Linked DNA regions of Homo sapiens: regions 1, 2 and 4 are each linked to region 3. The links come from fine-mapping of genetic effects on gene expression. A gene starts in region 3. Each other region holds a variant in brackets. All regions are shown on one strand. Distances are between the middles of the regions.

Evidence for each region. PIP is the estimated chance that this variant, and not a neighbour inherited with it, causes the effect.
Region 1: its variant is the best candidate, but not a certain one, in a credible set for the expression of NRCAM in cerebellar hemisphere (GTEx, PIP 0.67).
Region 2: its variant is the best candidate, but not a certain one, in a credible set for the expression of NRCAM in cerebellum (GTEx, PIP 0.63).
Region 4: its variant is the best candidate, but not a certain one, in a credible set for the expression of NRCAM in nasal epithelium (TOPMed, PIP 0.87).

Annotation. Positions count from the first base shown.
Region 1 is chr7:108,197,756-108,205,862 of GRCh38, forward strand. It overlaps NRCAM (neuronal cell adhesion molecule), which reads right to left. Exons shown (of 33, transcript NM_001037132.4): 14 at 201-344. Among named protein-coding and RNA genes, the nearest start is that of LAMB4, 71 kb to the left of the region's middle. The variant A/G (reference allele first, on the strand shown) is at 4,347.
Region 2 is chr7:108,209,450-108,217,556 of GRCh38, forward strand. It overlaps NRCAM (neuronal cell adhesion molecule), which reads right to left. Exons shown (of 33, transcript NM_001037132.4): 12 at 1-156. Among named protein-coding and RNA genes, the nearest start is that of LAMB4, 83 kb to the left of the region's middle. RefSeq lists a silencer at 989-1,146 and enhancers at 1,652-2,851, 1,992-2,686, 2,058-2,257, 2,378-2,587. The variant A/G (reference allele first, on the strand shown) is at 4,500.
Region 3 is chr7:108,451,720-108,459,826 of GRCh38, forward strand. NRCAM (neuronal cell adhesion molecule) reads right to left here and starts at 4,717. Exons shown (of 33, transcript NM_001037132.4): 1 at 4,524-4,717.
Region 4 is chr7:108,253,946-108,262,052 of GRCh38, forward strand. All of the region lies in intron 3 of NRCAM (neuronal cell adhesion molecule), which reads right to left. Among named protein-coding and RNA genes, the nearest start is that of LAMB4, 130 kb to the left of the region's middle. The variant T/C (reference allele first, on the strand shown) is at 4,197.

The sequences.
Region 1 (8,107 bases), 250 kb before region 3:
CCATTGTAAAAACTGTGTTATGGAAGAACATTAAGACTGCCATATTCTTTGGGGCAAGGTTTATATCTTATCCATCCCTTATAGCTCCAAGTACTGTGCATTGCACATAGTAGATGCTCAATATATTTTTGCTGATTGAACAGAAAATAACAGCAGTCATTAATTTAATTTGCCATGTCTTTAATAAAATGAGAGCTTACCCAGCACATTTACAAATGCGTTTGCCAGTAAATATCCATATTCATTAGAGGCATTGCACTGATAGACTGCACTTGATCTTTCTTGAACATTTGAAAAAATAATGGTATCGCCATCTATTTTTCTGCTGGGGTCATCAGGGGCAACTGTTTGGATGTAAAAATAGAAAGTATTTATTCCTATTTGCTTAAAAGATGTATATTAAGCTTGTAAAGTCAGTAGGACATAAATAAAGACTGCTCTAAGTACATGCAGTAAGAATAAGACTAGAATTTAGGCAGAAACCAGAACATTTTCCTTCTCAGAATTGAGTTATATATTAGCAAGGGTATGTGCTCAATATTCATTTAGTCTTAAGTCGATTGATTCTGTAACACTAAGTATTATTTATTTTTATTTTTATTTTTTTAAAGACCTTTCCATTCACTTGCCCCTTGTATCTTTTTTTTAATTATACTTTAAGTTTTAGGGTACATGTGCACAATGTGCAGGTTTGTTACATATGTATACATGTGCCATGTTGAACACCAAGTATTATTTTGAGAGATGCAGAAAAAAAACTCTTACAAGTTTAGGTGAAAATTGCATTACAAATTCAGGAAAACATTGCCGTGTTCAAGAGATTGTGGTTATTTAGGAGAAAAAAAGTTAACGATCAAGAGGAAATAGCAAAAGCTAGTAAAAAATATAGAAACACTCCAGCTTGTTCAAACCTGTTCCTTTTAGGAGCCTCTTCTTGACATAAATAAATCAACAAATACATAAACACTACGGGGCTAATAACCAAATGTGAAAATATTTAATTTTCTGCTGTGGATATTCTTGAAGCTGAAGTATAAATAAATTGTGTAAATTCCTCTTGAAGACAATGTTTTCAGCTAAATCTCTCAAGTATTAAAACGTTAGGAACAGGCTTGATCCTTACTGAAGTGGAATAGAACTGGCTGGGTAACACAGTATGTGAGGATTTAGTCCCGGGCATGCCCAGCAATTTGGAACTTCTGTGAGATTGGAGATGAATTCCTTTCTGTGAACGATACACTTTAGGCTTTGAGCTTATATTGCTTTAGAAGTACACTAAGAGGGATTTAGGTCTCTGTCTCAGCACGATGATCAAAATCAAAACTAAATAACAGCACCTTTTCTCTTAAACTGCTCCTGCAACTTGAAGCATTTAAGAAGACTTTATGTTCTTTCTAAGCACCATTTCTTTTTCCTTGGTGAAAGGAAAAGGATGTGCATCTAAGACACACTCATCACTGTATTTAGACTCTTTTATCACTTTTAAAATAAAAAAAAATTTGTTTCATCTGTGGTTTATTAACCCACTGTAATAAAAATCAACCAAACCATAGTACATCCTTGTTTTATGACCCAAACTCGAAGTATTTGGCTCCCTCATTCTGTAATAGTTTTCCACGGTTGCTGTAACAACTTACCACAAATGTAGTGGCTTAGAACAACACAAATTTACTGTCATACAGTTCTGTAGGTTAGAAGTCTGACATGGGTCACACTGCTCTAAAACCAATGCGTGAGCAGAGCTGCGTCGCTTTCTGAAGGTTCTAGGGGAGAATCCATGTCCTTGCCTTTTCCAGCCTCTGGAGGCTGCCCACATTCCTTGGCCCATGGTCCTCTTCCTCCATTTTCAAAGCTGTCGATGTTGCATCTCTCTGATCATTCTTCCATAGTCACCTTTCTTTCCAACCAAAGCCGGAAAAGGCACTCTGCTTTTGGGGGCTCATGTAATTAAATTGGGCCCAAATTAGATAGTCCAGGATAACCTCCCCATCTCAAGGCCCTTAACCTTAATCACATGTGCAAATTCCCTTTTGCCATGTAAGGTGACATATTCATAGTTTCTAGGGATTGGGATGTAGACATCATGGCGGGGTGGGGTAGAAGGAGGGATTATTCTGTCTACCACATACTGTATCACATTTATAGCCTAAAAGTCTTTTAGATGTTTTAGACTAGAATATTTTAAAAATTCGCCATACATTTAAGTTCAGAATAAGTTTTTAGCATCCAAGGATTATTAAAACTCTAACTTACAAGTTACTCCTCATGGACTGATTAACGTCTTCATTCCCAAGGAAAAATGTAACAAAAAAGCAGTTGTTCAACACTCTGATTACCATCAGTAACTCATTTATGAAATCATCTTAGATACTCCAGGTTGTTCAACTAGTTATGTGGGGGTGTCGAGATACTTTGAATTGACTTCTTAGCTTACATCTCCTATTTATGACTCTAATAATTTCAAAATTGCCTTAAGGAACATGTTCTTCCAAATCAAAGACAAATACAAGTCATAATTCCTTCAACAGGGTATATAGATTCGTTGATAAAAGACAGCAGAGGATGGATATGACACACTGGCCTAGAAAGGGAACTGTAGCTGTGGCAGGCAGCCATGGATCCTGAAAACACAGTGTACCTTAGGGCAGCCATGGACCCTGAAAACACAGTGTACCTTAGGGCAGCCATGGACCCTGAAAATGCAGTGTAACTTAGGGCAGCCCATGTGTCCCAGATCCCAAGTCTTGTATGACTGGGGCCTGACTCACACAGTCTCAGTGATGCTCACCTACTGCCTCATCAAGGGGTGCTGGAACACAAAGCAGCATTTCTGGAGACTTGTTCTCTGTCAGTGATTCTTAGCACTTCTGGTCATTATATAAAAAAGATACTTGCACACACATGTTGATAGCAGCACAATTCGCAATTGCAAAAATATGGAACCAGCCCAAATGCCATCAATCAATGAGTGGATAAAGAAATACACACACACACACACACACACACACACACACACACACACACACACACTATGAAATACTACTCAGCCATACAAAGAAATGAAATAATGGCATTCACAGCAACCTAGATGGAATTGGAGATCATTATTCTAAGTGAAGTAACTCAGGAATGGAAAACCAAACATTATATGTTCTCACTCATAAGTGGGAGCTAAGCTATGAGGACACAAAGGCATAAGAATGATATATTGAACTTTGGGGTCTCAAAGGAAAGTGTGGGGGGCAGCGAGGCATAAAAGACTATATATTGGGTACAGTGTGTACACTGCTCGGGTGGCCGGTGCACCAAAATCTCAGAACTTATTCATGTAACCAAATGCCACCTGTTGCCCAAAAATCTATGGAAATAAAAAATAATACAAGAATAAAGTAGAGAAACAAACTAAATTTTTAAGGTCGGTAAAAAAAAAAAAAAAAGAAAAAGATTCTTAGCACTTCTGGACCCAGCACTTGGGCTCTCAGTGCTGGGACTCTTCAGGGCACTCTCGGTGCCCACCATGTGCCCACCCTGACCGCATCTCTGTGGATGTTCCAGGCAGTGGAATAGAGTGGCTGTGTATTTTAGACTGTGATGAATCCCAGGCAGAGCTCTGGGCCGAATCTCTCTGGATGGGTGGCAGACTACATAAGAGTTCCTCAAATTCCTTAAATGTATTGAGTTTTTAAAAGTTACACCACCACGCGATATTTAATGGCTAAAGGGCTCTAGTTCTGAAGATCTGTTGCACAATGTGAAAATGCTTAACACTACTGAACTGTACACTTAAAATGGTTAAGATGGTAAATTTTGTTATGTGTTTTTACCACAATAATAATAATAATGTTACACGACCATGAACTTGGAGGGCAAAGCTCAACAATGTCAGTAGGACAATTTTCCCCAAGTGGAGACTCATCAGTCACAAACAAACCATGTCAGAAAGCTTTTCTGTTGCTCTCAGTTGCACTTTTCTTTGCTATCAACTCTTTGGGAAGGTATTTTTTTACCTGAAAGGCATCTGACTGTATCTGCCTTATATATGCTAAATAGAGCAGTCTTCAAATATTTATTTTTGGCAAGGTATTTAGGAACAAAATAAACCCTTTAGGTAATAACAATGAGTAAGCAGACCTCTCTCCATGGGAGTTTTCCTTAAGTACTTGTTTAAAAAATGCAAACAAACCCAGGAACTGTCACGGTGACATATGGAGGCTCGGTTGGTAGCTGGACACAGAGTAAAATCACTAATGTAGAGACATTTGGAGCCTTTGGATGGGCTGGCTAGTGGGTAGAGTAACTCTCTAGCATGCAAATCCAAATTATCCAGAGGAATAATCATTAATTCT[A/G]GGAATAACCAACTTCATCTGCTGTCAATAAACACTGGAGAAAGAAATTTAAAAGCACAGAATCCCTACAAATAACTTAAAGCCACAAAGATAAGGTCCAGAACTGGGGTGATGGCCTTCAGAAAATACTTATAACCCAACTCTCCTGATGTTGGTAGGTAAAAATATAAACACTTTCAACATATAGATAATGAGAATAATAATAATAATCATGCCATCTTACATGAACAGAGTACGATCAATCTTTAAAATGCTTTTACATTTACTGCATAATTTCATTTTAAAAAGAACTTTGTGAAACAGGCTAATCATATAGTATTTTATGCATTTTGGAGATGAGAGACTACAAATGGCAGCATGTACTGGTTTGTTCAAATGAGGTTACTGCTCAGGTTTTCTCAGTTAGTCAACTTTGTAAACATTTCCTGGAACGTGAACATTTGGGCATAATGTAGAACACATTTCTGGGAGAAGAGTTAAATTTCCCTCTTCATTTACTTATTCCATCCCTACAAGAGGATGCCACTGAGCCCCTTAGTTTTGTGAAAAGGAAGAAGGGAGGATGCCTTGATGAAATCCCAGGAATATCCTGGACCAGTCCTCCATTCTCCTGGTGCTTATCTTACATTCCTGGCTTTCAACATCTTTCATTGTGAGAAAAATATGTCACAGTGCCAGGAAGAGGTCTTCTGCCCATTCTCATTCTCTTAGTTCTTTTCCCTCCTCATCCCTGAGAGGACAGGGGCCTTTTAACACAATAACGGTGTGATCTTATCCACGTTTCATGCAGAAGAGTCTGACAGACCTAATACAACGCACGCTGGAAACTATCAAGGATCTGCAAGTGTTAGACTCTCCTGCAGAGATAGGAATCACAGTGGCCACAGCCTTGGGCACCACCACCAGAATGGCACAGGCTCTCCAGTGGGGAAGACCAAGAGGAAGAAAAAGGAACTCAAAAACACCCCCCTCAGTGTGGCTTTGAAGTCCTGAAAAGCAACCTCCTAGGGTAGAGCAGGGAAATGCTTTGCCCCATCCTGCCAATAGCAAGTTCATTTTCTTTCTGGTCCTGGGTTCTATTTTCACACCCTCCCATTACACAATAAAATTAAAGCTCTCTTTCAGCACTAGTTCTCTGCAGCTGTGTTCTTTTATCTGACTTCTGTAGATTGTTTTAAAACTATTTTAGGTGGTTTTGGGAAATTTCCACATTTATTTAATACAGCCTGTAATTTTTGCTTCAAGGAAAGCTTTAAGTAATCTGGCCAGTCCTGGGGATGGGGGAAGGGTAAAGCTTTAGGAGACAATGAAATAAAAGCCCAGACACTTTTGGAGTTAATTTTTCCAGTTTTTTTTTTTTAAAACAACAGCTTTCAGGTCTTAAATGCAGTCACAGATCAATAACATTGCATTTTGCTAAAAGAACCCTTCTTACCATTCCCCTCCCTGAACCAGCTTCTCCTTTTACAGTATTTATGTGCACTCGGCAGCCAGAGCCTGCAGAGGCGAAAGGAGACAGTCAGTGTCCTTAGGTGCTCGCCTGCAAGTCAGGAGTGGGGAGGCTGTGTACCTGGCAGTATGGTCCCCTGACTGTATCTCTGTTGTGTGGCACAGGAGACAAACTTCAGGCACCTGGAGGGGACACTGCACAGCCCCTGACAACAGTAGTTCAGAAGCACAGCTGTTTCCTGTGCCTCACCCGCAGCAGCTGGTCCACCTGCAATTTCTGCAGTCTCTTGGATAGAAAGTGCTGTCAGCAAGCCAGCTTGTGCTCCCAGCTCACTTCTGGCGCCTATGCTAGGACCCCATGATGAAGGCAAGGAGTCTTCATTGTGCTAATTCAGCCCTGTCACACATGGTGGCAGACTGTGCCCTCAGTTCCTACCTTCACCTCTCTGCATCTCCCTGTCATCCTTCCCCCGTCTCCCAGCCGTGCTAGATGTGGGGTGCACAAGTCAGCAAACTCCAGATGGGAAGCAAGCACTGGTGCTCCGTTTCCAGGATGGTCCCTAACCCTCAAAGGCAATTCCCTTCAGGGGCCTCTAAATTCATGGGACAATTACCAAGAAGGGGATGAAAAAGAGAGCGGCACAGGGCTCCTTAAATGTCTATTAATGTTTTGGATAGTTTCTGCACCCCCCTCATTCTCTCATTATTTTGGATCAGGGGAGATCAACACACAGTGGGGGCATGCAGGGTTCACTTTGAACTTAGCTGTTGAAGACTTAGCATCCACCCATGTGGCCACTCAGCAGAAGCTGCAGATGGGCCAGCTGCAGAAGGCCAGGGGCAGGGCACAGCTGTACCTTTGCAGGGTCATCGTGCAGAAAGCTGTGCAGAGGCCCCGCTGGCTCATCATCTTTTAGTTATGAGATGTCCAAATGGTAATCCACTTTCAGCTTGGCCACCAGATGTCGAGAAAGACCCCTTCCAGGGAAGCTTCACAGTACCTTGGTATAAACATGCAGCACCTGCTACCAGCACCACGGAGCGGCCTGGTGGTGCCGGGCTCCTTGCTTTGCTGCCACACCATGTGGTATTCCTCTCCCTGCACGTCCACTAGAGTGACTGCTCTGAGGCACACCAGAGGGTGAGCGACCCTGGATCTATAGGAGCTATGGAATTCCAGCCTTGTCTTCTCAGTCTCCTTTTTTCTGTCTCAGGGGGCCTTAAAGAAGACTTTTGGGATGGAAGAGATGAGCTGATCTGATTTGAGACATTTAGTCCTAACTCTTTCTTCTCTACCTACTCAGACAATTTAGGGTTACAAGAGGAACTACTCTTTCTGCTATTACTACTCTGTACCCCCAAAGCAGGCCTTTTATGGTTGATTCTCCCCACAAAAATGTAATTTAAAAGGGGAGTGTTATTATGTTATGAGTGTATTTTCAAAGCTGTTAAGATGACTGGATTTACAAGGTTCCCTCAGAGGCACTGCATACTCTGGTACTATGGTCTGAATATTTGTGTCCCTCCAAAATTCATGTTGAAACCTAACTCCAAGGTTAAGAGGTGGGGTCTCTGGGAGGTGATCAGGAAATGAGGGTTTCCCCCTCATGAATGAGATTGGTGCTGTTCTAAAGGTCTTGAGGGAGCCCGTATGCTCCTTCTACCATGTGAGGACACATAGCAGCATCTGTGAGGAACAGGCCATCACCAGACATGAAATCTGCTGGTTCTTTGATCTTGGACTTTCCAGCCTCCAGAACTGTGAGCAATATATTTCTGTTGTTTATAAATTACCCAGTCTAAGGCATTTTGTTATAGCAGCAGGAATGGACTAAGATGGCTGGTTTGGAAGGACAACAAGCTGAGCAAATCAAGAAGAAAAATCAGCTTCATTATTTAATCCTCCCCTGCTTATGTCATCCACCCACATCTCAATTTTCCTTGCATAGTATTGCACTCTGGCTGCCAAGCTTGAGGGTTTATCCCCTAGCTTCCCCATTTTCCCTGCTGAAGGGCTAGATGGATGGTTCCTTCCACTTGTCAGTTTCACTGAGTCTAGATCTCAGGGACACTTTTAAACTTCCATAAATGGACACAAAAACTCTGAGCTGCAAAACATGGTGCAAAAGTATCAAGCATGTATCATCATTTATTGCCATTTTGTATGCATTCCTGAGAAAATCATACATTGTACCAGCTAATTTTTTGTTGATTTTTTTGTAGAAGCAGGATTTTGCCCTGTTGCCCAGGCTGGTCTCTAACTCCTGTACTCAAGAAATCCGCCCGCCATAGCCTCTGAAAGTGCTGGGATT
Region 2 (8,107 bases), 240 kb before region 3:
ATGGCTCCTAATGCGTTTTTTGCTATACATTGGTAATTTCCAGAGTCTGCTTCTGAAACATGAATGATCTGCAAGGTTTTCTCAAAGTTCTTATAAACTGTCCTGTTTTTGGGTAGCATTCCATCTTCCTTTGCCCAGTAAATAATTGGGGTAGGCCTGATAGGATAAATAAATAATGATGTTACAAAAAAGGAATCCACCTATGACTACTTTTGAGGATGAATTTTCATGCAACTTTGTAACAAATCTTTATTAAAAAATCATAAGAAATACATAGATATTTTAATTAGCACCACACTTTTATAAATAATGCTCACAGTTTTACGTTTTCACATAATCAGAACTATACTAATTGATGGCACACCATAAACTTCGATGTCAATGATACAGTATGAATGCCAGCATGAGTTGCTTTACTGATGGGGCCTAATTATTTTTTTCAACGTTGTGACTAATAAGGAACTCTTGGAAATTTTTACATGAAGCTACTATGTTAATCAAAAGAATTACTATTATATTAATGATACTGAATTATAATTTTTCATCAGCTGGGATTAAACATGTACAGAGAAAAACTCATAAACATATCTATGACCATAAACCTTTGTATACATTTCCATATCAAATGGAATAATTTTCCTATTTTACAGCAGTCTATCTGATGATGTTAACTAAGTAATAAGGGAAAGAGCTTTTTTTCCTTAGTTTCATTATTAGTGACATTTAAAAATATTATTACACTAATTAAGAATAGATCAAACTTAGGTATTACTCATACCATTTGTCACCCAATGTTTTGTTTTGTTTTTTTTTTTGAGATGGAGTCTTGCTCTGTCACCCAGGCTGGAGTGCAGTGGCACGATCTGAGCTCACTGCAAGCTCCGCCTCCCAGGTTCACGCCATTCTCCTGCCTCAGCCTCCCGAGTAGCTGGGACTACAGGTGCCCGCCACCATGCCTAGCTAATTTTTTGTATTTTTAGTAGAGATGGGGTTTCATTGTTTTAGTCAGTATGGTCTCGATCTCCTGATCTTGTGATCCACCCGCCTCAGCCTCCCAAAGTGCTGGGATTATAGGCGTGAGCCACCGCGCCTGGTCCCAACTGTGTTTTTTATTGTCATGGAATATGGAGACAGATGAAAAGTCAGAATATAGGCTTGGAGTTAGAAGATCTTTAGAATTCCAACCCTGTCCCTGGATTTCTGATCTTTTTGAGGCTTAGTTTCCTTAGTTGCCTTAATAGGGATAATAATGCTTGACTTGAACTAATGACTTTAGAAAGTTTTCATGAAGGTAAAATAAAAATCCATTCAACACAAAAATTTCCTAAGTACTGAACTATACACCAAGCACTGAGCTGTGTGTTGGGAAGATGATGAAGAAAATATGGTCCAGGCCCTCAGGAAGATAACAATATTTGTCAATAGAAATGCAAGTGACTCTGAATAAGAACAGCTCAGCCCAGAAGGGATCATCATGGCAGATGGGAGGCAGAACTACATTGCAGCTCTGATGCGGATGGACAGAGCAGCATGTGGAGGCTTGCATCGTGAATTTTAGCTCCAGAATAACTGCAAGAACAAACCTGCTGAAAGGACTCACAGACTCTCTGAAGGAATTGGACTGCTCCTGCAGGACCCGGGAGATATCCCAAATACTGTGAGTGCCCAAACTGCAGAAGTGAAAAACTGGTTTGTGGGAGAAGTTTCTGACTTTACCTGGAGCTGAGTCAATTTAGAGAGCTGAGTGAAATACAGGGGTAGAGGAAGCAGCAGGAAAGGCCTTGGGAGCTCGCTGGGTCCCCAAGCAGGCCATTCCTGCCTGGCACCACAGAGATCCTTCAGGAGGGCAGCCAGAGGTGTGGGGAAAATGCCACAGGGAGAAGGAAGTCTCCAGCTGAACTTTATAACAATTTGAACCAGACGAGAAACCTCCTGGCCAGAACTCGGGAAAGGGCATGAATCCAGCATGCAGACTCCATAGGCTGGGGAAGAACTAAGCCCTTTTCTTTTGCCGCTGGGAGGTGGATAGTCTGGGGCAAGTTCTCAAGCCCCGCTCACCCACTGCCTGGAAACAGACTTGGGGCTGTTAGGGTAGGCACTGTGGGAGTGAGACTGGCCTTTTGGTTTGCGTGGGAGCTGGGTGAGGCCTGTGACTGCTGGATTTCCCTCGCTTCCCCAACAACCTGCATGACTCAGCAGAGGGACAACTTGCATGACTCAGCAGAGGCAGCCTTAATCCTCCTAGGTACACAACTCCATTGATCTGGGAACCTCACCCCCTCCCCCACAGCAGCCACAGCAAGACCCAAAGAGAGTCTGAGCTCAGACACACCTAGCCCTACCCCCACCTGAGGGGCCTTCTCTACCAACTCTGGTAGCTGAAGACAAAGGGCATATAATCTTGGGAGTTCTAGTGCTCCACTCACCACCAGTTCCTCTCCATACTACCAGAACTGATACTCTCTGGAAAGCACCTGGCAGGAGGCCAACCAGCACAAAAATAGAACATTAAACCACCAAACCTAAGAACCCTCACAGAGTCCATTTCAACCCCCTGCCACCTCCACCAGAACAGGTGCTGGTATCTATGGTGGAGAGGCCGATGGTTCACATCACAGGACTCTGTGCAAACAAACTCCAATAGCAGCCTGGAGATGGGTAGACTTGCCAGGTGGCTAGACCCAGAAGAGAGATAACAATCACTGCAGCTTGGCTCATAGGAAGCCACATCCATAGGAAAACGGGGAGAGTACTACATCAAGGGAAAACCCCATGGGACAAAAGAATCTGAACAACAGACTTCAGCCCTAGACCTTCCCTCTGACAGAATCTACCCAAATGAGAAGGAACCAGAAAACCAACTCTGGTAATATGACTAAACAAGGATTTTTAACACCCACCAAAGAATCACACTAGCTCACCAGCAATGGATCCAAACCAAGAAGAAATCCCTGATTTACCTGAAAAAGAATTCAGAAGGTTAGTTATTAAGCTTATCAGAGAGGCACCAGAGAAAGGCAAAGCCCAATGTAAGGAAATCCAAAAAACAATACAAGAAGCAAAGGGAGAAATAGTCTAGGAAATAGACACTATAAAGAAAAAACAATCAAAACTTCAGGAAACATTGGACACACTTATAGAAATGCAAAATGCTCTGAAAAATCTCAGCAATAGAACTGAACAAGTAGAAGAGAGAAATTAAGAGCTTGAAGACAAAGTCTTTCAATGAACCCAATCCAACAAATACAAAGAGAAAAGAATAGGAAAATATGAACAAAGCCTCCAAGAAGTCTGGGATTATGTTAAATGACCAAACCTAAGAATACTCAGTGTTCCTGAGGAATAAGAGAAATCTAAAAGTTTGGAAAACACATTTGGAGGAATAATCGAGGAAAACTTTTCTGGCCTTGCTAGGGACCTAGACATTCAAATACAGGAAGCACAAAGAACACCTGGAAAACTCATCTCAAAAAGATGTCCAGGCACATTGTCATCAGGTTATCCAAAGTTAAGATGACGGAAATAATCTAAAGAGCTGTGAGACAAAAGCATGAGGTAACCTATAAAGGAACACCTATCAGATTAACAGCAGAGTTCTCAGCAGAAATCCTACAAGCTAGAAGGGATTGGGGCCCTATCTTCAGCCTCCACAAACAAAACAATTATCAGTCAAGAATTTTGTATCCAGCGAAACTAAGCATCATATTTGAAGGAAAGATACAGTCTTTTTCAGACAAACAAATGCTGAGAGAATTTGCCATTACCAAACCACCACTACAAGAACTGCTAAAAGGAGTTCTAAATCTTAAAACAAATCCTGGAAACACATCAAAACAGAACCTCTTTAAAGCATAAATCACACAGGACCTATAAAACAAAAATATAATTCAAAAAGCAAAAACAAAAAATAAAAAACCCAAGGTACACAGGCAACAAATAGCACAATGAATGCAAGGGTATCTCACATCTCAATATTAACATTGAATGTAAATGGCCTGAGTGCTCCACTTAAAAGATACAGAACTGCAGAATGGATAAGAACTCACCACCAACTATCTGCTGCCTTCAGGAGACTCACCTAACACATAAGGACTCACATAAACTTAAAATAAAGGAGTGGAAAAAGTTATTTCATGCAAATGGACACCAAAAGCAAGCAGGGGTAGCTATTTTTGTATCAGACAAAACAAACTTTAAAGCAACAGCAGTTAAAAGAGACAAAGAAGGACATTATATAATGGTAAAAGGCCTTGTCGAACAGGAAAATATCACAATCCTAAACATATATACACCTAACAATGGAGCTCCTAAATTTATAAAACAATTACTAATAGTCCTGAGAGTTTTTAGCATGAAGGGCTGTTGAATTTTGTCGAAGGCCTTTTCTGCATCTATTAAGATGATCATGTGGTTTTTGTCACTGGTTCTCTTTATGTGATAGATTATGTTTATTGATTTGCATATGTTGAACCAGCCTTGCATCCCAGGGATGAAGCCGA[A/G]TTGATTGTGGTGGATAAGCTTTTTGATGTGCTGCTGGATTCAGTTTGCCAGTATTTTATTGAGGATTTTTGCATCAATGTTCATCAGGGATATTGGCCTGAAATTTTCTACTTTCGTTGTGTCTCTGCCAGGTTTTGGTATCAGGATGATGCTGGCCTCACAAAATGAGTTAGGGAGGATACCCTCTTTTTCTGTTGCTTGGAATAGCTTCAGAAGGAATGGTACCAGCTCCTTTTTGTACCTCTGGTAGAATTTGGCTGTAAATCCATCTGGTCCTGGGCTTTTTTTGGTTGGTAGGCTATTAATTACTGCCTCAATTTCAGAACTTCTTATTGGTCTATTCAGGGATTTGACTTCTTCCTAGTTTAGTCTTGGGAGGGTGAATGTGTCCAGGAATTTATCCATCTCTTCTAGATTTTCTAGTTTATTTGCGTAGAGGTGTTTATAGTATTCTCTATACTCTATATGGTGGTAGTTTGTATTTCTGTGGGATCAGTGGTGATATCCCTTTTATCATTTTTTATTGTGTCTATTTGACTCTTCTCTCTTTCTTCTTTATTAGTCTGGCTAGTGGTCTATTTTGTTAATCTTTTCAAAAAACCAGCTCCTGGATTTATTGATTTTTTGAAGGGTTTTTCATGTCTCTATCGCCTTTAGTTCTGCTCTGATCTTAGTTATTTCTTGTTTTCTGCTAGCTTTTGAATTTGTTTCGGTTGCTTCTCTAGTTCTTTTAATTGTGATGTTAGGGTATCAAATTTAGATCTTTCCCACTTTGTCCTGTAGACATTAGTGTATAAATTTCCCTCTAAACACTGCTTTAGCTGTACATTGTGATCCTGGTACATTGTGTCTTTGTTCTCATTGGTTTCAAAGAACTTATTTATTTCTGCCTTAATTTCGTTATTTACCCAGTAGTCACTCAGGAGCAGGTTGATCAGTTTCCATGTAGTTGTGTGGTTTTGAATGAGTTTCTCAATCCTGAGTTCTAATTTGATTGCAGTGTGGTCTGACAGACTGTTATGATTTCTGTTCTTCTGCATTTGGTGAGGAGTGTTTTACTTCCAATTATGTGGTCAATTTTAGAATAAGTGTGATGTGGTGCTGGAAAGAATGTATATTCTGTTGATTTGGGGTGGAGAGTTCTGTAGATGTCTATCAGGTCTGCTTGGTCCAGAGCTGAGTTCAAGTCCTAAATATCCCTGTTAATTTTCTGTCTCACTGATCTGTCTAATATTGACAGCAGGGTGTTAAAGTGTCCCACTATTTTTTTTTTTTTTTTTTGAGATGGAGTCTTGCTCTGTCACCCAGGCTGGAGTGCAGTGGTGCGATCTCGGCTCACTGCAAGCTCCGCATCCTGGGTTCACGCCATTCTCCTGCCTCAGCCTCCCAAGTAGCTGGGACTACAGGTGCCTGCCACCATGCCTAGCTAATTTTTTGTATTTTTTTTAGTACAGATGGGGTTTCACCATGTTAGCCAGGATGGTCTCGATCTCCTGACCTCATGATCCACCCGCCTCAGCCTCCCAAAGTGCTGGGATTACAAGCATGAGCCACCGCGCCTGGCCATCTCCCACTATTTTTGTGTGGGAGTCTAAGTGTCTTTGTATGTCTCTAAGAACTTGCTTTATGAATCTGGGTGCTTCTGTATTGGCTCCATATATTTTTGGGATAGTTAGCTCTTCTTGTTGCATTGATCCCTTTACCATTATGTAATACCCTTGTCTTTTTTGATCTTTGCTGGTTTAAAGTCTGTTTTATCAGACTACAACTGCAACCCCTGCCTTTTTTTTTTTTTTTTGCTTTTCATTTGCTTGGTAAATATTCCTCCATCCCTTTATTTTGAGCCTATGTGTGTATTTGCACATGAGGCTGGTCTCCTGAATACAGCACACTGATGGGTCTTGATTCGTTATCCAATTTGCCAGCCTGCGTCTTTTAATTTGGGCATTTAGCCCTTTACATTTAAGGTTAATATTGTTATGTGTGAATTTGATCCTGTCATTATGATGCTAGCTGGTTATTCTGCGCGTTAGTTGATGCAGTTTCTTCATAGTGTCGATGGTGTTTACAATTCGTTATGTTTTTGCAGTGGCTGGTTCTGGTTTTTCCTTTCCATATTTAGTGCTTCCTTCAGGAGATCTTGTAAGGCAGGCCTGGTGGTGACAAAACCCCTCAGGATTTGCTTGTCTGTAAAGGATTTTTATTTCTCCTTTACTTACGAAGCTTAGTTTGGCTGGATATGAAATTCTGGGTTGAAAATTCTTTTCTTTAAGAATGTTGAATATTGGCCCCCACTTTCTTCTGGCTTGTAGGGTTTCTGCCAAAAGATCCGCTGTTAGTCTGATGGGCTTTCCTTTGTGGAGAACCCAACCTTTCTCTCTGGTTGTCCTTAACATTTTTTCCTTCATTGCAACCTTGGTGAATCTGATGATTATTTGTCTTGGGGTTGCTCTTCTTGAGGAGTATCTTTGTGGTGTTCTCTGTATTTCCTGAATTTGAATGTTGGCCTCTCTTGCTAGGTTGGGGAAGTTCTCCTGGATAATATCCTGAAAAGTGTTTTCCAACTTGGTTCCATTCTCCCTGTCACTTTCAGGTACACCAATCAAACGTAGGTTTGGTCTTTTCACATAGTCCCATATTTCTTGGAGACTTCATTCATTCTTTTTCATTCTTTTTTCTCTAATCTTGTCTTCACACTTTATTTCATTAAGTTGATCTTCTATCTCTGTTATCCTTTCTTCCACTTGTTTGATTCAGCTATCAATACTTGTGTATGCGTCACGAAGTTCTCGTGCTGTGTTTTTCAGCTCCATCCGGTCATTTATGTTCTTCTCTAAACTGGTTATTCTAATTAGCAATTCCTCTAACCTTTTTTCAAGGTTCTTAGCTTCCTTGCATTGGGTTAGAATAAGCTCCTTTAGCTCAGAGGAGTTTACTATTACCCACCTTCTGAAGCCCACTTCTGTCAATTCGTCAAACTCATTTTCTGTCCAGTTTTGTTCCCTTGCTGGTGAGTAGTTGTGATCCTTTGGAGGAGAAGAGGCATTCTCGTTTTTGGAACTTTCAGACCTTTTGTACTGGTTTTTCCTCATCTTTGTGGATTTATCTACCTTTGGTCTTTGATGTTGGTGACCCCTTCATATGGGTTTTTTGTGTGGACGCCCTTTTTGTTGATGCTGATGCTATTTCTTTCTGTTTGTTAGTTTTTGTTCTAACAGTCAGGGCCCTCTGCTGCAGGTCTGCTGGAGTTTGCTGGAGGTCCACTCCAGACACTGTTTGCTTGGGTATCACCAGCGAAGGCTGCAGAACAGCAAAGGTTGCTGCCTGTTCCCTCCTCTGGATGCTTCATCCCAGAAGGGCACCTGCCAGATGTCAGCCGGAGCTCTCCTGTATGAGGTGTCTGTCGACCCCTGCTGGGAGGTGTCTCCCAGTCAGGAGGCACGGGGGTCAGGGACCCACTTGAGGAGGCAGTCTCTCCCTTAGCAGAGCTCGAGCACTGTGCTGGGAGATCTGCTGCTCTTTTCAGAGCCAGCAGCAGGAATGTTTAAATCTGCTGAAGCTGCGCCCACAGCTGCCCCTTCCCCCAGGTGCTCTGTCCCAGAGAGAT
Region 3 (8,107 bases):
CCACTCATATGAGGTACTTAGGGTCATCAGATTCATAGACTGGAAGTAGGATGTTTGTTGCCAGGGGCTGGGGGCTGAGGGGTTATGAACTATTGTTTAATGTGTACAGAGTTACAATTTGGGAAGGCAAAAAATGTTCTGGAGAGGTATAGTGGTGATGGCTGCACACAATGTGAATGTACTTAATGCCACTGAAGTATACACTTAGAAATAGTTTAATGGCATATCTTATGTCATATATATTTTACAATAAAAAACTTAGCAAAAACATTTTTTAAATAAACATATTGCATTTGCTGCCCCATTTAAAGACAACCTGATAATGAAGGATTTACAGTTGCTGACGCTGAAGGCTGAGCCATTCCCCTATTTCCTTCCTCAGGTAGCCTTCAATTTTAAGAGAAAAAATAAAAATTTGTCAATTCATTTTGGTACATCTTCCTATTCTTAGAAACTTCAGTCAAACTCATAGAAGCAGAGAGTAGAATGGTGATTGCTAGTGGGTAGGGGAATTGGGGAGATGAGATGTTCTCACCACACATACACAAATTAACTGTGTGAGGTGATAGATGTGTTTATTAGTTTGATTGTGGTAATCATTTCACAATGTATACATATATCAAAATATCATGTTGTACATATTAAATGTATACAACTTTTACTTGTCAATTATATCTCATTAATGCTGTGGGGGGGGGAAGAAACTTCAGCCTTTGATCCCAATAGAGGCTGTTTTAAACAGAAGGAGCTTTTCATTTGCCAAGGCAGTAAAATGTTTAAGTAAAATAAGTCACTGGATTTTTGCCCTTAGCATCCAGTTCTCTCCTCTGTCCTCACCTGCCAGGAAGGTTCCTGGAAGGGATGCTTCAGGTAGGGAAGCATAAAATTTTAAGGGAAAAGCATATCTAAATGTATTTAGTAATTTTCAAATCACTTCCTCTTCATCAATCATTGCAACAGCTGAAGACTGAAGTAAAGCAGTCTTTTGATTCAAATGCACAAAACTTCCTAAAGAATATGTTAGAAGCTCTACATTCCAGTTAAATTTGCTATGGGTTACCGAGCTTCTCAGATGGTAGGTACTCTTTGAAAATGAGGATGAGATTCCAATAGCTGCTGATCTATGGTGAGAATATAAGGAAAAAGCCTCAGTGCCTCAGTGGTTACCCTTTGGGGTGAGTAATGACTGGAAGGGACCACAAGAGGGCTTTCTCAGATGTGCATTACACTGTTCCTTGATCTGAGTGCTAGTTAAGTCAATGTGTTCAGTTTGTGCAAGTTCATCGGCTATGCATTTGTGATATGTGAAAAAAACTCTGTGTGATGAAGTATGTAGCTAGATGATAAAATTAGAATTAATCTTCCCAAGGACAGATATTCTGTTTGGTCACCACTGTATCCCCACTGCCTGGAACACAGTAAATATTTATTAAAGAATGAAGGAATGAATGAATGAAATCTTTTTAACGGAAAAGCTTCCTGTAGAGTTCCATTCAACAGCTCCTATGTACATACACAATATAATATCTGTAGAGTCTATTTATATTCAATCTGTTACACAGGGAAAATTACACCTGCATGAAAGCATTATTTGAAATGATTCTTGAAATTTTCTACAGCCCAGGTGTATACATTCTCAGGACCCCCTCACACTTCTGAAGCACTTACACCTAGCGATTATTGCCATCATTGTTGTATTGGCCTCACAGGAAGTACTATTTCCAAAGATGCTTTGCTTTCTATTCACTGTTACCGTAGCATTAACAAAAATGATGTGGTGTAAGGGCAATGGCCTTCAGTCCAAAGACCTCATCACTACCCTGCATTACGAGGCTGAGCCCTATTGCAGTTGTTTTGAAACTCGAAGGATTAGTTAGATACAATGTTGCCTGAGTCCTCTAACAGCTCTAAAATTCCTGGATTATGTAAAATGTTTAGCAACTTTCCTGTAATAAAGTAAAAAGAAGGTTGAAACAAGACTATGAGTCAGTAGGATTATGAATGCAAAATAAATCAATTTTTCCAATTGATCAGTTAATTATAATTCTAAAAGCTATTCCAGAAATAGCTGATTCCACTTTGGTTCAAATTTTCCTTTTTTACTAGTTAACATGGAGCATCTTCATAAATGCCCCCACATGTTTCTATATATTTAGGAAATAGAATGATTTCCTAAGATTGGATGCTAGGGTCCTATTCAAACTCAACATCCAATTTGAGGAGTAACTCATTTGCAGTCAAAACCGTGTACAAAGGACATTCAGGGCTGGGGACCTTTTCTTTAAAGAAAAAAAAGTTTTATGAAACTTTATGATGTGCCAGGAACATCTATGTAATCACAGAGGCCCTGGTTACTAAGAACATGTTGTTCAGTGACTGTAATGGGTTGGATTGTGGGTTAACAGCCACGTACTTAAAAGCTAACAGGAATAAAAGAATATGTAAAGGAGTTACATGGGAATAAAAGGCTATTCCACAATACAGTTCTCTGAATCACAATATTGCCTGCTACTGTGAGTTCTGCAGAGCTCCGAATTAAATGGGCTTGTAATGTATCTCCCTGGTTTTGAACACTCAGTGGTTTAGGTTTCCCCTAAACTGATAAGCCTCCAAAAGGCCACAGTCTCAGTCTTGGATTGTAAAGCACAAGGACAAAAACAATCCCACTCCCCTACTTCCTAGCTGTGTGGCCTTGGGAAAGTTACTTGGTTTCTCTAAGCCTTCATTTCCTAATTTTTAAAATGGGGTTGCTGTGAGAATTAAATGAGATGATACATGTAACATGCGCAGCGCCCAGCACATCTAAAGCTCTCAAAACCGGTTGGCTATCGTTACCATTAAAGCAGCAAGTATCAGTTGCCTAACTCCATTTCAGTACTTCAGCAAGTACTGCCATTATTACAATATTTTAACAGCAGGGCATGGTTAGCACAATGCAGTCCCATAAAGCAGCCCAGCCTCCGAGGTTTGTATTCAGAGGTTACTGTGTTCCTTTCCAGGACCACCCCAGGGGGAGCTCCTGGTGCACAACCAATGCTTCCTGCCTCATTACACTTGGCTCCATCTCCTCCTGCAAAAGCCTGGGGCGAGGAAGAGCCCAGTCTCTTAGACCCGCACTTCTGAGCGTTAACCATCTGGGACTCGGAAAGGAAAAGAAAGCTTTCTTCTCAGGACAGTTCTGCGCCGGTGGTAGCCAAGGGCTGGAGCCCCTGATGCGAAGAAAAGGGAAGGAGAGAGGCGGGGTGCGAAAGAAACGCCACCGCTCGGCGCCCTCCCTCGGTGCCCGCGGCGCAGGGGCCACCCGCCAGCGTACGGGGGACGAAGATGTGGCCGCGGGCGCGGGCGGGAGGGGAGGCGATCCGGGGAAGGAAGCGGCCTGTTCGCCAGCCCCGGGGCCCGGGGAGCCCTCCAGCAGCGCTTGCGGCCCTGAGGACACCGCTTTGGGAGAAATGACGACTCCCTTGCTCACCCTACTGCGACACCCCGTCCCCCTCCGCACTCTAGCAGATGCGGGCCGGGAGTAGCTGAGCTGGCCAACCGCCTGGGACCAGGATGCGGCAGCGCCCACCCGCGCGGCGTGGAGGGGGCCGGGGGCGGCGCTCGGCGCAGATGGCGCTCGCTGCGAGATGGATGCTCCAGGGCGGGTAATCACTCCTGGCTCAACACAGCATCCCGGGCGGAGCGGATGCCAGATCCCACCGCTAAGAGCCTGGGCTGGGAAAGCAATCTTTCCAGGCAGCCCCCAGCCCGGTGCGCCGGCCCCGACAAGTCCCAGCCCTCGGAGGCAGGGCGGGGCGCAGGGACTCCCGGGACCCGCACCTGTAAGGCCGACAAAGCCCCCGCAAGCGCCCCACCCCTCTGTCCTCCGTGTCTCTCTCGTTCCGCCTCGATTCCCCGAGCCCTCTCCAGGCAGCGACTGGAGAAGCGAAGTCGGCCTCGCCCCCGAACTCCGTGGTCAGCACAGGTGTACGCACTTCCGAACAAAGCCCACGCCCAGACGTGTCCGCAGGGGCCCGAACAGGCACACGCCCGTGCGCTCCCGGCCCGGCCCCCGCGCTCCTCGCCCCGCCGGCACTGTGGCGTGACGCCCCGCGCCTCCGTGTCCAAGCCCGGGAAGCCGCCGTGCCGGGCCCGCAGGCTCTCCATGCCCAACTGCCCACGAGCAAGAGCTCTGGGCAGGGCTTCCCGGAAAGCGTGGGGTGCGGGCGCGGAGCAGAAGTTGGCCACAGGCTGGAGGGGGTGGTGGGTGCCGGCGCTGCTGGATTTCAGCTGTGCCTTCACCCAAGCGCAGGTCCCCCTGCTCCCTCTCGGCGCCCGCGGGAGTGTCGGGGGCCTGCAGGGGAGAAGGGAGTTGGAGATCTGCTTTGCCCCTCCTGCAGCGCTGCCAGCCCGGTGAGCGCTCGGCTGAACCCCGCGGCGGTGTCCAAGTGACAACGCAGCAGCCTCGCGCGTCCTCCTCCGCTCCAGCCGTCACCCCCGAGCAGGACCCAGTGTCACCGCCAGACGCGCAAGGAGCTACTTACGTTCTCGCGCCGCGCCCTCCGCTCAGCTCTGGCGCGACTGCCCAGGACCCTGGACCGCCGGTGTCCTCCGTTCTCGACGAAGCTATCCCCTCTGGCTGCTCCAGCCAGGCGGCCCCTGCGCCGTCCCCCGCGCCCGCGCGTCTGAGGCTCGGACTGCGGCGCGCGTCCGCCAGCGACCCTGGCGAAGCGAGGCTGGCCCCGCGCCGGCGCGCGCCCCCGCCGCTCCCGCCCTCTCCGCTCCCCCTCCCCGCGCCGTGCTTTTGCCCCTCCCGGCTCTCCTTAGCGTCCTCCCGTCCCCCTCCCCCGCACTCCCTGCGGGCGTCCTCCGCCTCCTCCCCTCCTGGCCAACCCCCTCTTGCCCTGCTGCTGCGACGGCAGCGAATGGGCTCCAGCCGCCGGCGCCTCGAGGGACTGGGTGGCCCCTCACCTGAGCGGCCGCCCCACCGCCAACCTCCGTCAGCCTGCGAGCGCGTGTGGCGGCGGGGGTGGGGGTGCGGGGACGGAGGGCGGGAGTGTTCCGGGGCTAGGATGGCTGGGATTTAGCTACAAAAGATGTTCCAGAAAATGGGTAGTTTTTGAATGCCACTCTCATGGGTTTAGCTTTCTGTGGGAGGTCTGTGGTCTTCTAGTTTTTTCTTTTTTAAAAAGCACTTTCTTCGAAATTCATCAGTTGGGGTGGTTGAGATTGGGTGAGTGGTTTTGGGGGTTTTGTTTTGTTTTTGCAACCGTTCTTTCCAAACACTCCCCGCCGCCCCCCACCACCGCAGAAAAAAGAGCTTTTAGCATAAGGCGGATGCTATCTATCCGCGGTAGAAACTGGGTCTTCTGGTCCCAAGGAATAGGGTTAGTTCGGATTTGCTTATTTACAAATGGGGGAGTATTATGGAGATTTTTTTTTTTTTTTTTTGGCAATGTAAATCGAGAATTAAGATTTTCCAACTGTATAGTATTTGAGTAAACACACTGCTTGCTGCATAGTTCAGGCTCCGAAGCGCACGTCTCCACTCTATCGTGGATGGTGTTCAGGATCCTTAGCCTGACCCTTGGGTCCTCCGTAATCTACTCCGGTCTGCACACAAATTACTTGTCTGCTGGGTATCACCCGACTTGACCACTTACAGCAGGCTCCAGCGCTTAGTGAGCTCAGCGGAGCCTTGATTCCTTCAGTTCTCTAATTCAGGAAAACATTTTCTGAGCTCCTCACCACCCCACCCCACCTCACCACCTCCTCCACCCCCAGCCTCCAAGGTGCTGGGGCAAGATTCAGGAATGAAAAAGAAACAGGTTCATCCTTCAAGGTCTTGACTACCCCAGTGGTCTGTTCTAACTTCAATTTGAACTTGCCCCGTCAGCTCACAGCATCTGCATGCAAGTGAGCAGCCTTCTTTTCCTTCTCCTTCTACTGCCATCCTCTCCTCCTTCTCCAGCCAAATGTGCTCTGGCCTCACAGAGCCTCCCTCGGTTCCTGAACCAGCATGATATCTGGCTGCTGGGTCATTGCACAAGTTGTTTCCACAGTCCCATCAGTGGTTCTTCTGACTCTAGTCCTTACCCAACTGCCATTCAGGTGGTACCTTGCACCTCTCAACTAATTGTCCAAATTTTCCTCTAAAATACCTTCCCCCCCGCAAAAAAAAAGATTCCATGATCCCCCTACTTGAAAGTCTGGGCTGGTGGGCTGGTTCTCTATTGCCTACAAAGTAAATTCCACATCTCCTGGTGTGCCTCTTTACAATCTGCTCCTAACTTATCTCTCCATTTTCCATAACTCTAAGCCTCTGCATGTGAGGTTCCTCCTAGCTAGAATATTGGTCCATCTCTTTTTCATTTGGCAAACTCTTGTTCATCCTTCAGAGCCTTACTTGGTTGTTACCTCCTCTGTAAGGACTATTATAATAGTGCTGGTCACCTTTTAATGATCTGTTTGCATGTCTGACTCCATAAAATTTCACTTCTTTGAGGACAATTTGTCTTATTTATTTTTGTGTAACCACATTTCTCATCAATACAAATGAAGCCACAGATAACCATAATCAACTCTCACTGCCCCATCATTTTGCCCTGTGTAAAGGACTTGAGGCCCCTCCGTTCCTTCCCCACTGCAGTAATTGCTGAGAATCCTGGGGTTGTCTTGCCTGTCCTTCCCATGTCCTTCTACTTCGTACTCTGGTTTTCCAAGATTGCCCCTCACCCCGGCCACTGAGAAACATTGATTTCTGGTCCACATTATTTTCCAGTGAATGCCACAGGGCAAACCTGTCAAGTGGGAAAATGACACCCTACTCTCTTCAGTTCTTGCCCTGGTTCTGTGTAGTAATTTATCCCCCGGGCACTGAAGCAACATTGCTTGTGTCTTCCTGTGTTACAATCTCATAAAGACCCTCTTTAAACAGCTCCTTGAACTTCTGCTTAGAATTGTTCTTTCTCTTCAGGCTCCAGTCCTGGTCTATGAAGCCAGGTTGAGGCAGACGATATTTGGTCCTGGTGAAGTCCAGGTTAGTCCTGATGCCTGGGAGACTACTTAGGCTATTGGGGGTTGCTGAAAGAATAAGGACATGAATAGAATCTCTCTCTTTTTTTTTTATGTGAGTGATGATTTCTCAGGTATAGTTTCCCTTACCTTTACAGGTAGAGTAACAATACTTAATACATAAGGTTATTGTAAGAAAGCACTGGACAGTATCTAGGACATAATAGGTGCTCAGCAAATTCTAGTTTAAGCAGTAATTATTTGATAAGATGTCTGTAATGTAAATACATGCTTGAATAAAAAGTACAAAGCCAGAAGAGAAAAAGCTCTGGAGAAGATAGGAACCACAGTGATAGTACAAAACAAAAACTAAAATTAAGTAATTTGGGGCTGGGTACGGTGGCTCATGCCTGTAATCTCAGCACTTTGGGAGGCTGAGGTGGGTGGATCACCTGAGGTCAGAGTTCGAGACCAGCCTGGCCAACATGGTGAAACCCTGTCTCTACTAAAAATACAAGAGTTAGCCACACGTGGTGGTGTGTGCCTGTAATCCCAGCTACTGGGGAGGCTGAGGCAGGAGAATCACTTGAACCCAGGAGGCAGAGGTTGCAGTGAACCGAGATCACACCACTACACTTCAGCCTGGGCGGCAGAGTGAGACTCCGTCTCAAAAAACAGAAAGTAATTTTGATACTACATAATAATTGTAATAATATAAAATTATTATATAGTTCTGATTTCCAGCTTATTACTTCAACTGCACTGCAGCTCTACATTGCTGGGGATTCATCTCCTGAGGGAATGAGCAACAGGAAGAACAAACTGAGGCTTCAAGAGGAGCTGAAATGAAGGGAGTATGGGAGGTGGGGATAGAAAAATGTTCTACAATTAGAAAGATGGCGGTGTGGGCAAATAGACTTTCTAATGCAGTCTGTTTGATCTGCTTGGTGATGCATGAGGCAGTCTGATTTGGCTGCACTTTGCTGGTGATACCCACAACTTGCCTCCTTACCCTAACTGCTGCTATCCCTTTCCCATCCCTAAGCCTTATCCTCTCCCTATTACCAAGCCTCACTCCATCTTCAAACCCAGCTGAGGACTGGGAATAAGGTCT
Region 4 (8,107 bases), 200 kb before region 3:
CGAAACCACAAAGCTACCAGAGACTGCCAAATCCCTGGCTGTGGCGTCCAGGCGATTGTTAATTATTGTTCTAAAGAATAAAAGTCAATAGTTTTTCAATCCTTGGCATAAAACATAAGAGAATATCTCGCAACCTTAGTTAGGTAAATTTCTTAGCTATGACACCAAAAGAAAAAAACTGATAAACTTAACATAATCAAAATTAAAAACAGTTGCTCTTCAAAAGAAACCAACAAGAAAATGCAAAGACAAGCCACAGACTATTTACAAATCATATATCTAATAAAGGACTTGTATCTACAACATGTAGAAAAACTAAGAAGACAAAACAAGTCAATAAAAAGATGGACAAAAATTTCATTAGAGATTTCTCCAAAGAAGATATACAAATATCTAACAAGCACATGAAAAGATGCTCAATATCATTTATCATTAAGGAAATGCAAATTGAAACCACAATGCGATACTACCACACACCCACTTGAATGGCTGTATTCAAAAAGACTGATGATGTCCAGTGTTGGTGAGGCTGTGGAGAACCTGAAATCCTCACATATTGCTATGGAAACATAAAAACATATAGCCATTCTGAAAAAACAATTTTGCTTTTTTTTTTTTTTTGAGATGGAACTAGCTCTGTTGCCCAGGCTGGAGTATAATAGCGTGATCTCAGCTAAGGGCAACCTCTGTCTCCTGGGCTCAAACCATCCTCCCACCTCAGCCTCCCAAGTAGGTGGGACCACAGGCATATGTTCTACCATACCCACCTAGTTTTTTTTATTACTTGTAGAGACCAGGTTTCACTATATTACCCAGACTGGTCTCGAATTCCTGAGCTTTAGTAATCCACCCACCTGGACCTCCCAAGTGCTTGGATTAAAGGCATGAGCCACCATGCCCAACCTGGCAATTTCTTAAAAGTTAAACACTCACTTACCATACAATCCAGCAATTCTACTCTTTTACCTAAGAGTAATGAAAACATATAACCACACAAAGACTTGTACGCAAATGTATATAGCAGCATTATTTATAATAATGAAAAATTGTAAACAGATCCAATGCCCATTAACGGATGAAAGAATAAGCAAAATGTGGTATATTCATATAATGGAAAAGTATTCAGCAATAACAAAGAATGAACTACTGATATATGCAACAACATGCGGCATGGATGAAACCTCAAAACTATGCTGAGTGAGCCTCTCCCTCTCCCTCTCCCCCTCCCCCCCCTGCCCCTCCCACTTTCCACGGTCTCCCTCTGATGCGGAGCAGAGGCTGGACTGTACTGCCGCCATCTCGGCTCACTGCAAACTCCCTGCCTGATTCTCCTGCCTCAGCCTGCCGAGTGCCTGGGATTGCAGGTGTGCGCCGCCACGCCTGACTCGTTTTTGTATTTTTTGGTGGAGACGGGGTTTCGCCGTGTTGGCTGGGCTGGTCTCCAGCTCCTGACCGCGAGTGATCTGCCCACCTGGGCCTCCCGAGGTGCCGGGATTGCAGACGGAGTCTCGCTCACTCAGTGCTCAATGTTGCCCAGGCTGGAGTGCAGTGGCGTGATCTCGGCTCGCTACAACCTCCACCTCCCAGCAGCCTGCCTTGGCCTCCCAAAGTGCCGAGATTGCAGCCTCTGCCCGGCCGCCACCCCGTCTGGGAAGTGAGGAGCGTCTCTGCCTGGCTGCCCATCGTCTGGGATGTGAGGAGCGTCTCTGCCCGGCCGCCCATCGTCTGAGATGTGGGGAGCGCCTCTACCCCGCTGCCCCATCTGGGATGTGAGGAGCGCCTCTGCCCGGCCACGACCCCGTCTGGGATCTGAGGAGTGTCTCTGCCCGACCGCCACCCCGTCTGGGAGGTGAGGAGCGTCTCTGCCGGGCTGCCCCCTCTGAGAAGTGAGGAGCCCCTCCGCCCGGCAGCCGCCCCGTCTGGGAAGTGAGGAGCGTCTCCGCCCGGCAGCCGCCCCGTCCGGGAGGTGGGGGGCAGCCCCCACCCAGCCAGCCGCCCTGTCCGGGAGGGAGGTGGGGGGCAGCCCCCGCCCGGCCAGCTGCCCCGTCCGGGAGGGAGGTGGGGGCAGCCCCCGCCCGGCCAGCCACCCCGTCCGGGAGGTGGGGGGCGCCTCTGCCCGGCCGCCCCTTCTGGGAAGTGAGGAGCCCCTCTGCCCGGCCGCCACCCCGTCTGGGAGGTGTACCCAACAGCTCATTGAGAACGGGCCATGATGACGGTGGTGGTTTTGTTGAATAGAAAAGGGGGAAATGTGGGGAAAAGAAAGAGAGATCAGATTGTTACTGTGTCTGTGTAGAAAGAAGTAGACATAGGAGACTCCATTTTGTTCTGTACTAAGAAAAATTCTTCTGCCTTGGGATGCTGTTAATCTATAACCTTACCCCCAACCCCGTGCTCTCTGAAACATGTGCTGTGTCCACTCAGGGTTAAATGGATTAAGGGCGGTGCAAGATGTGCTTTGTTAAACAGATGCTTGAAGGCAGCATGCTCGTTAAGAGTCATCACCACTCCCTAATCTCAAGTACCCAGGGACACAAACACTGCGGAAGGCCGCAGGGTCCTCTGCCTAGGAAAACCAGAGACCCTTGTTCACATGTTTATCTGCTGACCTTCCCTCCACTATTGTCCTATGACCCTGCCAAATCCCCCTCTCCGAGAAACACCCAAGAATGATCAATAAATACTAAAAACAAACAACAACAAAAAAAACAACTATGCTGAGTAAAAGGAGCCAGACCCAAAAGACCATCTATGATTCTACTTATATGAAATCTTTAGAAATGCAAAAGTATAGCCAGCATGGTGGTTCATACCTGTAATCCCAGCACCTTGGGAGGCCAAGGCGGGCGGATTACTTGAGATCAGGAGTTTGAGACCAGCCTGGCCAACACGGCAGAACCCAGTCTCTACTAAAAATACAGCCAGGTGTGGTAGTGCACGCCTATAATCCCAGTTACTCTGGTGGCTAAGGCACAAGAATCACTTGAACCCGGGAGGTGGAGGTTGCAGTGAGCCAAGATGATGCCACTGAACTCCAGCCTGGGTGGCAAAGGAAGACTGTCGAAAAAAAAAAAAAAGAAAAAGAAAAAGAAAAAGAAAAGAAGGAAGGGAGGGAGGGAGGGAAAGAAGAAAGAAGGAAGGAAGGAAAGAAGGAAGGAAGGAAAAGAAAAGAAAAGAAGAGAAAGGAAGGAAGGAAGAAAAGGCAAAACTATAGAATCAGAGAACAGATTAGTGGCTGCTGGGGCCTGGGGTAGGAGAGGAGACTGACTATAAACAGGCAGGAGGGAACTTTGTCAGTCGACAGTCATGTTCTGTAGCTAGATTGGGATGAAGTTTGCTGTTAAAAATGCACTAAAACTCACCAAACTACACTTAAGATGGGTAGATTTTGTGGTATATAAGTTATACTTCAAAAAACTATAAATAAGAAAGTTAACTGGAACATCCTGTGCTTTCCAAATCAAGACACCTTTCAGAGGATACATTCATAGCCTTTGCCCCGGGTAAGTGCTTTCAAATATAATACTCTAGTCCCAGTATAAATTCAATATACCTGTTTCTAAACACAGAGTATTAAGCGATACTGAGAGAAATGGCAGATATATTAGCATATGAATCTAAATGTATTATTGAAAGAGTGGTTTTAAGAGAAGTGTAGACAGCAGCCTACTCTAATGAAAATAAATGTCAATGAAAATAAGCTACATTTGTCATTTTCATGAAAAAATTATTTCTATCATCATCTGCAAATCAATTTCCTTAATAAGGGTTCGTGACAATTTTCAGGATTTCTTGAAATGATTTTTATGATATATTAAGACTCATTTCTACATAACCTTGATTTCAAATCAAAATTGCTTTTAACTTCACATTCACAGGTATGTGAGCTATTAAACCTAAGTCAGGCAGAGAGGATCAGTTTCATCAAGCGTCTCAGATGAGAGCGTTCACACCCTTCTCTTCTTCACGTGCCACACTGCCTCCTCTTTGTCTCCACTTCACCGGGCATGCTGAGGATTATGAACACTTTTCAAAGTCAACGCTACTGACTTCTATCTTCCTAAGCAAAAATAAGCCACCAAAAGTAGAGATTTATAAAAGAAAGCAAGCTCAGACTTAGTTTCTGAGAAGTCCATTTCCTCACACAGAGGAGTCTGGGTCTCTGCCTGTTGGAGGAGGTGGCTGTCTGTGTGCTCTGA[T/C]GGAAATTCTGCCAGTTTCCTTCAGCAGTTAACACCCTCAGCTTCAGGGCCGAAACATGCTCCAGGTTGTCCTTTGGCTGAAAGCCCGCTAAAATGGCAATAATTCCCTCTGACCACAACAGCCTTGCGTGTGGTGCTTTCTCTTAATTATTCCTCCTGCCCCTGGTCCTTCAGCTCCACATTATTCCCACTCTCCAAAAATTCTATTCTTCACTTCCTTCTCTTTCCAGCTTAGGTCCCATGGGCCACCCTTCATTTTTCTGACCAGCCCTCTCAACTCCTTTTCCTCCTTCTTTTTACACCATACATTCTTGTCTAGGGAAAGACCCCAATTCAGAACAGTTTTGCCTATAAGGACATGAAGCCCAAATTTCCCATGTGACAGACCCACGTGGGGGAAAATGATAAAGTAAAAAGAGGATAGGCTGTTGAGTCAGAGCCTAGCTTAAATCCTGGTGCTGTCACCTACAAGCTGTGTTGCATTGGTTATGTTCAACAAGCTCTGTGTGCCTTAGTTTCCTCACCTGTAAAACGGGGCTAATTTACCTACCTCCGGGGCTGTTGAGATAAATATGGAATGAGCATAGCGATGTGGCAGGAGCTTAGTGGACCCTTAGTAAATGGTGACAAAAGCCTAACAAACAAGCACTCTGATGTCCATGTTCACTGTTGTTCTCTCGACCCAGTCTGCTTTCTCCACTTTCTACTTGGTTCCTATCCTCCTTGTGGCCTGGATAACACCTACTTATTCCTGGAGACTCCACTAAAATGTCAACCATTAGAACTGCACTGTCAAAAACAGCAGCCATTAGTCAAATGTGGCTACTTACATTCAAATTAAGATTAATGAATATTAAAAATCCAGTTCCTCAGTCACACTGTCCACAATTTGAGTGCCCAACAGCCACATGGGGCTGGCTAGTGGCTACTGTGTTGGGACAACACAGCGTGGAACATTTTCATCATCACAGAAAATTCTATTGGACAGAGTTTCTCTAGAGGAAAATGTCTTTGTTAACCCTCTCCTAAAGAACTCGTGTACTTTTATAAGCATACTCATCACTTCCTAAAATGAGTGTTGATTCTTTTACTCCATAAATTGTGAACTTCTTGAAGTACCACTTAAATCCATACAAATTTGCTAAATGAACTGTTGAATAATTGGTTAACAAGCCTTTTTAAAAATCAAAGTCAAGTAACAACAGGTGCTGGTGAGGCTGTGGAGAAACAGGAACGCTCTGACACTATTGATGGGAATGTAAATTAGTTCAACCATTGTGCAAGACAGTGTGGTGGTTCCTCAAAGACCTAGAACCAGAAATACCATTTGACCCAGCAATCCCATTATTGGGTATATACCTGAAGAAATAGAAATCATTCTATTATAAAGATACATGCATGTGTATGTTTGTTGCAGCACTATTCACAATAGCAAGGAGATGGAATCAACCCAAATGTCCATCAGTGATAGATCGGATAAAGAAAATGTGGTACATATAGACAATGGAATACTATGCAGCCATAAAAAGGAATGAGATAATGTCCTTTGCAGGGACATGGATGGAGCTGGAAGCCATTATCCTCAGTAAACTACTGCAGGAACAGAAAACCAAACACCACATGTTCTCACTTATAAGTGGGAGCTGAACAATGAGAACACATGGACACAGGGAGAGGAACAACACACACTGGGGCCTGTCGGCGGGTGGAGGGAGAGAGAGCATCAGGATGAATAGCTATTGCATGCAGGGCTTAATACCAAGGTGTTGGGTTGATAAGTGCAGCAAACCACCATGGCACACACTTACCTATGTAACAAACCTGCACATCCTTCACATGTACCGCAGAACTTAAAATAAAATTTGAATTTTTAAAAAAGCTTTTTGAAAAATAAACCTCTTAATTGTCTGGAGGCTCAGACAATTTCCATGAGGAAGAGTGCCTGATATCTTTGCTTTCAGAACCTGGTCCTGAGAGATTTTGTCTAGTTTTGCTTCCTATTCCGTTTCTCAAACCATTTCTAATCCTTAACCCATTCAGGCAAGCGGAGCCCTCCACCACGTGGCCAGAATTTCCTGACGTCCAAGAAAGGGCATTAAACAATATGGCTTCTGAGAAAACATCTAATATCAGATAAGTCATTGAATATAAAAGTTCATCTCTGTACTCACAGTGCCAGAGTCAGTGCCTGGCCCACAGTAAACACCTAAAGAGTATTTATTGAAAAAAATGAATGGGTTGTTATTTTATCAGGGACTATACTCTTAGGGAGGAATGAGGTACAAGGGGAGAGATGCTGGAAAGGATGGAGAGCCAATATGGAGGAGTACTGAGCTGCCGAGTGTGACTGATTGCTCAATCCACAGACCACACTCCCAAGAAGGTGGATAAATGGGAGCTCAGAACCAGCCCTGTGATGGAGTGGGGAAAGGGAGAAGAACTTACTCCCGGGATGTGCTTGGTCTAAGATTCACCCCCTTGCTCCTCTGGATTGTGCATTCCAGAGCGTGGGCATTAGTGGAGTCTGCAGTGATGTCAACATGGGAGTGTTGGGTGGGAGATGAGAGGGGTACTGGTGTGAAATTGGCTGGGGCCCACACAGAGCTGGAACAAGAGATGGGGAGGCCGAGGCTCTGGAGTGGTGCATAAACAGGTGTTGGGCACAATGTATATAAATTAGCCTTTTAAATTATCTACCATCATGGGCAGGACTTGAGACTGGAGGATAGGCCATTTGGGGAAGGTTTATGTGGGGTGTTCTCATATTCAATTCCTGGCAAGGTTCTAGGTACATTGGAAGTATCAATAAGAATCAACTGGTTGATTGCATAGAGGCATCTAAGCAGGCCAGTATGATACTAGGTACTAGGTTCCTAAAGGGGGACACTGATGGAGGGGAAGTGAATGTGGGGACATGAGGAGAAATGGTGGACAGAAAGGGGCTGAAAACAAACTTAATCCACTTTATAATTTTGTCTGGGTCCAAGCTGACTTGGAAATATTCCCTATGTCCTCTCCTTTGTTCTAAAAGCACCCAGAACCCCTTCCGAAGTTTCTTCTTTAATAAGATTTCCTAATCATTATAAAACCCACTTAAGACCCAGGTAAAGGTTGTGCTCCTAAGGATCAATAAACTCAACTTTCCACTAGATTTTCCTGAAGCCCAAGCACTGCTCTCTTTGTTTTCAGCATATATCACCACCGCCTAAGTTAGGTCTGTTGTCCAGTAAGTAGATAGTATAGCTCTCTTTTGCTCCACACATTGTCTACAGCTGACAGGTATCATTTGGAGAATAAAATTAGCAAATGTTATTGCTGTGTCTATTTATATTTTATTAATCAACAGATTTTTAGCAAATTTTGGTTTTATCTCCATGAATCATAGACTTGAAAGGCCAAAGACACTCCAGGGAATTCTTTATTTTAGCATCTTCTTTCCAGGCAAAAAGACAGGACATCCCCATTAGAGTTGTTGTATTGGACCCCTCGTGTGCACCACTTCAAAGTCCTCTTGGGTTGTTCCTCTTATTTCAGCCACAGCTGTAGACACCTGTTTTCCTGGAGGCTTTGAGCAGCTTGGCACAGGTGCTCTAGGACAGTGGCCTCACCTTGACCCTCATAGGGATCTCTTGCTTCCTGCCCTAGCCATCTCTAATCTTGGTTAATAGTTCTAGAAATCCACTCTGCACTCAAGCACAACCCAGCAGTGCAGGGGAGTTAGTCTTGTGAGGGCCAGTCTAGACCAGTGAAGATCTGGAGTCAGTGGATAAAAGCACTCCATTTCATCCCCTGGCAGACAGTTCTGAAACACTTCATAAACCCTTTCACCAGTCCACTGGGATCAACCAGCCAATGCAATGACACAGGCTTCTGTTGGCTCCTCCCCTCACTTTCTTCCACTCCCCCTTTCT